2 separate regions of the Homo sapiens genome follow, and region 2 is linked to region 1. Evidence: fine-mapped expression QTL. A gene starts in region 1. The other region holds a variant in brackets. All regions are shown on one strand. Distances are from middle to middle.

Region 1 (2,912 bases):
AGATCCACAGTCAAAATATTTCAGCTGTGCCTTTGTCTGTTGCCCACATGTCCAGGTAATTCTTTTAAGTAGTTTAAGAATGGTAAATTACACATTTTCTAGGAGACTGAAAATTCCTAATCAAAGGTTAATTATTTTTTGAAAATTATTTTTTGAAAAGTTTAGTAAAATCTTCTGAAGGCTTCATTTAGTTCTACATCTTGTAGAAGATTCAGAAGGCATCAGGTGTAACCTTCTGCTCTTTTCTCTATCCATTGCTGGCTCCCTACTTTCATTTTGAATTTATCCCTATTTCCCTATTTTTCCCCCTTTGTGTACAGATACGATCATTCTCCACCCTACCTTCCAGCACTTGCCCCTCTTCAACTACCACCTTCTCCATCCCTTGTTGAGAAAGCCTTCTCTCAACTTCTTGTTTATACTTAGATTCTTTTTTTCCTCACCTACAATTCCCACACTATTGAATAATTGTCTACTCCCACAGACCACATCATATCCCCTTGCCATCTTGCTTGTTGACAAGAGTGCATATGTGCCAGGCACTGTATGAGGCACCAAGGACACAAAATACATGATTCCTGTCCTCTATATTTAGGGTGAATTGTCAGAAGAAACTGGTATTACAAAGGTCAGTTAGAGAGTCATTGTGGTCAATCACTTATAAATCACAATACACTTTTTCTCTATTTTTAGTATTTTTCTATTACATATAAAAAACTACCTTCCATGAGAAACAATAGGATGGAGATTATTCAAGATATAGTGTGTCAAACTGAGAAATGAATACACAGAGTTAACGATTTGTTTGACCAGAGGCAAGAAAGCATTCACAGAATGCAAAGTGAAGTTAGACTTGCTGACTGAGTGCTTTGAAACTCCCGATTGAGAGGATGAACCTCATGCACAATTAGCGCCTTAAGGGAAGGTCTTGAGATGAAAGAAAAATGAAAATAGTTTTGTGGCCGCAGAATTTACTACCACTGGACGCAAGATGTCTAAAGTACTTTAAATGTGAACTCCAAGGGAGGTCAGAGATAAATTCGACTGCTAAAAATCAGATTTACAAAAGCAATATTCAACCATGTAGACTGGCAACTCCACTAGTGTTTGGAGCTCCCCATCCAGATGTACAACAAACTCTTGGAGACTTGGATGTGTTACACAGGGGGCCGGTCGGGTTTCCATTTAGGACCAGGAGATTATAATCACTTTATTTTAGCAACCTCCTTACTACAAGGCCAAAACTGACAGTCCTCTCTCCAGACCCTCGCGTCCGCCCTCCAGACTGTGCTTCCCGCGCCGGACAGGGAAGTGGGAGTGCGGACGACAATCCGCATCCTGCCAGCCAGACGTCACCAAGCTGTCTTCCAAGAGGCAGGCGGAGAGAGCTGACTTCCGATTGGGTCAGCCGAGGGGCACGGCTGGCTCCCTATTGGCTTACAGGAGGGGGCTAGAGAGAGGCGTGTCTCAACGTCACACCCGCCCCTAGTCTCCTTGCTGCTCAGGATTATGGGAGGGAAGGGAAGTCCAGGAGGGAAAAATGACCCGGAAAGACCTTTGCCGGCCTGGGCCAGCCCTCTTCCGGAGCTGATGTCTCCTCCCACCAACCAGGAGAGGTCCGCCCTAGGCCCCGCCCGTGCCGGGGGATCAGGTGATTGCGGGCCAACACGGTCACGTGACCGGGGCGCACCCGCCGATTGTGGCCATGGCGGCCGCAGTCTCTAGTGTGGTGAGACGAGTGGAAGAGCTCGGGGATCTGGCTCAGGCCCACATACAGCAACTTAGCGAAGCTGCCGGTGAAGATGGTGAGGGAGCGGAGGAGAGGGAGGCGGGCGGGGCAGACGGCGCTAAGGTACTGGCGCTCGATGGCTGTGAGGGCTAGAGGCTGAGGCCTGTGTTCCTTTGGGTCCCAGGCCGCAGGTGGTTACCCGAGGTCTGTCGCTTCTGAGCCCCTCTGCGCCATCGATTGCCCACTTCCCAGAACTCACAATGCCAAGGCGTTGTCTTCGAAAACCGCATTATTCAGAACCCATGGAAAATCTGTCTAGATCCGTGCTGGTGTAAACTGTCTCGGTAGCGATTGGAAGAAGGGCAGAATCTAAATAAAATACAGAAGTTTAAATAAATGGCTAAGATGAATGATAACACTCAAATTAGTTATGGTGGTTTGCATCCTGTAAAGATAAAAAGACATGTATAACAGTTCCACTTTTTCATTGCTGCGTTGTAATTTGCGTTTTACGTTTTGGATTCAAAACAACATTCTATAGAAGAGCTTTACATTGGTGTGTAGACTATTCTGCCCCATACATCATGCCAGTTCTCACAAGGGCTCTGTTAAGTATTGGCATACTTGTTTTGGAAAGGTCTAAGCTGTTAGGAAAAACTGGGCTAGGGAATTGCCTCAACCTTCTGAATTTAAGTCCAATTCTTTTCATTACGTCTCAGCTGCCTTTAGGTTCTACATTATTCCTTTTTGAGTTTGAGCAATTACTACAGATAGTTTTTAAAATTCTGTGGACTGACTCATATCATCGGACTCATAGGAAAACAGTGGTGGAACATTTTCTTAAGCGATTGAATAGTTGGTGAATTTGTTATTAAATAGGGTCTATGATGAAATGCCTTAGTTTCAGTGAATATTTTTTGCCAGATTATCATTTATCAGGAGTGTTTTGTTTTGTTTTGTTTTTAGAGGCAGAGTATCATTCTGTTGCTCAGGCTGGAGCCCCTCTAGTAGTGGGACAACAGGCGCACACCATCTCGCCCGGCTAACTTTGGCATATTTTGTAGAAACGGGGTTCACCATGTCATCCAGGTTGGTCCTGAACTCCTGGGCTCAAGCATTCCACCCGCTTTGGCTTCCCAAAGTGCTGGGATTACAGGCGTGAGCCACTGTGCCAGGCCAGGAG
Region 2 (2,912 bases), 830 kb after region 1:
CTTCAGACGATCAAATTACTCTGAGCTACGGGAGGACATTCAAACCAAAGGCAAAGAAGTTGAAAACTTTGAAAAAAATTTAGAAGAATGTATAACTAGAATAACCAATACAGAGAAGTGCTTAAAGGAGCTGACGGAGCTGAAAACCAAGGCTCGAGAACTACGTGAAGAATGCAGAAGCCTCAGGAGCCGATGCGATCAACTGGAAGAAAGGGTATCAGCAATGGAAGATGAAATGAATGAAATGAAGCGAGAAGGGAAGTTTAGAGAAAAAAGAATAAAAAGAAATGAGCAAAGCCTCCAAGAAATATGGGACTATGTGAAAAGACCAAATCTACATCTGATTGGTGTACCTGAAAGTGATGGGGAGAATAGAACCAAGTTGGAAAACACTCTGCAGGATATTATCCAGGAGAACTTCCCCAATCTAGCAAGGCAGGCCAATGTTCAGATTCAGGAAATACAGAGAACGCCACAAAGATACTCCTTGAGAAGAGCAACTCCAAGACACATAATTGGCAGATTCACCAAAGTTGAAATGAAGGAAAAAATGTTAAGGGCAGCCAGAGAGAAAGGTCAGGTTACCCAGAAAGGGAAGCCCATCAGACTAACAGCGGATCTCTCGGCAGAAACCCTACAAGCCAGAAGAGAGTGGGGGCCAATATTCAACATTCTTAAAGAAAAGAATTTTCAACCCAGGATTTCATATCCAGCCAAACTAAGCTTCATAAGTGAAGGAGAAATGAAATACTTTACAGACAAGCAAATGCTGAGAGATTTTGTCACCACCAGGCCTGCCCTAAAAGAGCTCCTGAAGGAAGTGCTAAACATGGAAAGGAACAACCGGTACCAGCCGCTGCAAAATCATGCCAAATTGTAAAGACCATCGAGACTAGGAAGAAACTGCATCAACTAACGAGCAAAATCACCAGTTAACATCATAATGACAGGATCAAATTCACACATAACAATATTAACTTTAAATGTAAATGGACTAAATTCTCCAATTAAAAGACACAGACTGGCAAATTGGATAAAGAGTCAAGAACCATCAGTGTGCTGTATTCAGGAAACCCATCTCACATGCAGAGACACACATAGGCTCAAAATAAAAGGATGGAGGAAGATCTACCAAGCAAATGGAAAACAAAAAAAGTCAGGGGTTGCAATCCTAGTCTCTGATAAAACAGACTTTAAACCAACAAAGATCA[A/G]AAGAGACAAAGAAGGCCATTACATAATGGTAAAGGGATCAATTCAACAAAAAGAGCTAACTATCCTAAATATATATGCACCCAATACAGGAGTACCCAGATTCATAAAGCAAGTCCTGAGTGACCTACAAAGAGACTTAGACTCCCACACATTAATAATGGGAGACTTTAACACCCCACTGTCAACATTTGACAGATCAACGAGACAGAAAGTCAACAAGGATACCCAGGAATTGAACTCAGCTCTGCACCAAGCAGACCTAATAGACATCTACAGAACTCTCCACCCCAAATCAACAGAATATACATTTTTTTCAGCACCACACCACACCTATTCCAAAATTGACCACATAGTTGGAAGTAAAGCTCTCCTCAGCAAATGTAAAAGAACAGAAATTATAACAAACTATCTCTCAGACCACAGTGCAATCAAATTAGAACTCAGGATTAAGAATCTCACTCAAAGCCGCTCAACTACATGGAAACTGAACAACCTGCTCCTGAATGACTACTGGGTACATAATGAAATGAAGGCAGAAATAAAGATGTTCTTTGAAACCAACGAGAACAAAGACACAACATACCAGAATCTCTGGGACGCATTCAAAGCAGTGTGTAGAGGGAAATTTATAGCACTAAATGCCCACAAGAGAAAGCAGGAAAGATCCAAAATTGACACCCTAACATCACAATTAAAAGAACTAGAAAAGCAAGAGCAAACACATTCAAAAGCTAGCAGAAGGCAAGAAATAACTAAAATCAGAGCAGAACTGAAGGAAATAGAGACACAAAAAACCCTTCAAAAAATCAATGAATCCAGGAGCTGGTTTTTTGAAAGGATCAACAAAATTGATAGACCGCTAGCAAGACTAATAAAGAAAAAAAGAGAGAAGACTCAAATAGACACAATAAAAAATGATAAAGGGGATATCACCACCGATCCCACAGAAATACAAACTACCATCAGAGAATACTACAAACACCTCTATGCAAATAAACTAGAAAATCTAGAAGAAATGGATACATTCCTCGACACATACACTCTTCCAAGACTAAACCAGGAAGAAGTTGAATCTCTGAATAGACCAATAACAGGAGCTGAAATTGTGGCAATAATAGTTTACCATCCAAAAAGAGTCCAGGACCAGATGGATTCACAGCCGAATTCTACCAGAGGTACAAGGAGGAACTGGTACCATTCCTTCTGAAACTATTCCAATCAATAGAAAAAGAGGGAATCCTCCCTAACTCATTTTATGAGGCCAGCATCATTCTGATACCAAAGCCGGGCAGAGACACAACCAAAAAAGAGAATTTTAGACCAATATCCTTGATGAACATTGATGCAAAAATCCTCAATAAAATACTGGCAAACCGAATCCAGCAGCACATCAAAAAGCTTATCCACCATGATCAAGTGGGCTTCATCCCTGGGATGCAAGGCTGGTTCAATATATGCAAATCAATAAATGTAATCCAGCATATAAACAGAGCCAAAGACAAAAACCACATGATTATCTCAATAGATGTAGAAAAAGCCTTTGACAAAATTCAACAACCTTCATGCTAAAAACTCTCAATAAATTAGGTATTGAGGGGATGTATTTCAAAATAATAAGAGCTATATATGACAAACCCACAGCCAATATCATACTGAATGGGCAAAAACTGGAAGCATTCCCTTTGAAAACTGGCACAAGA

What was found. PIP is the estimated chance that this variant, and not a neighbour inherited with it, causes the effect. A credible set is the group of variants that fine-mapping cannot tell apart.
Region 2: its variant is the best candidate, but not a certain one, in a credible set for the expression of RIMOC1 in fibroblasts (GTEx, PIP 0.84).

Annotation. Positions count from the first base shown.
Region 1 is chr5:41,902,663-41,905,574 of GRCh38, forward strand. RIMOC1 (RAB7A interacting MON1-CCZ1 complex subunit 1) reads left to right here and starts at 1,682. Exons shown (of 6, transcript NM_175921.6): 1 at 1,682-1,805. The coding sequence starts at 1,706. RefSeq lists enhancers at 1,115-1,254, 1,366-1,912, 1,665-1,784.
Region 2 is chr5:42,735,766-42,738,677 of GRCh38, forward strand. No RefSeq gene overlaps it. Among named protein-coding and RNA genes, the nearest start is that of CCDC152, 20 kb to the right of the region's middle. The variant A/G (reference allele first, on the strand shown) is at 1,212.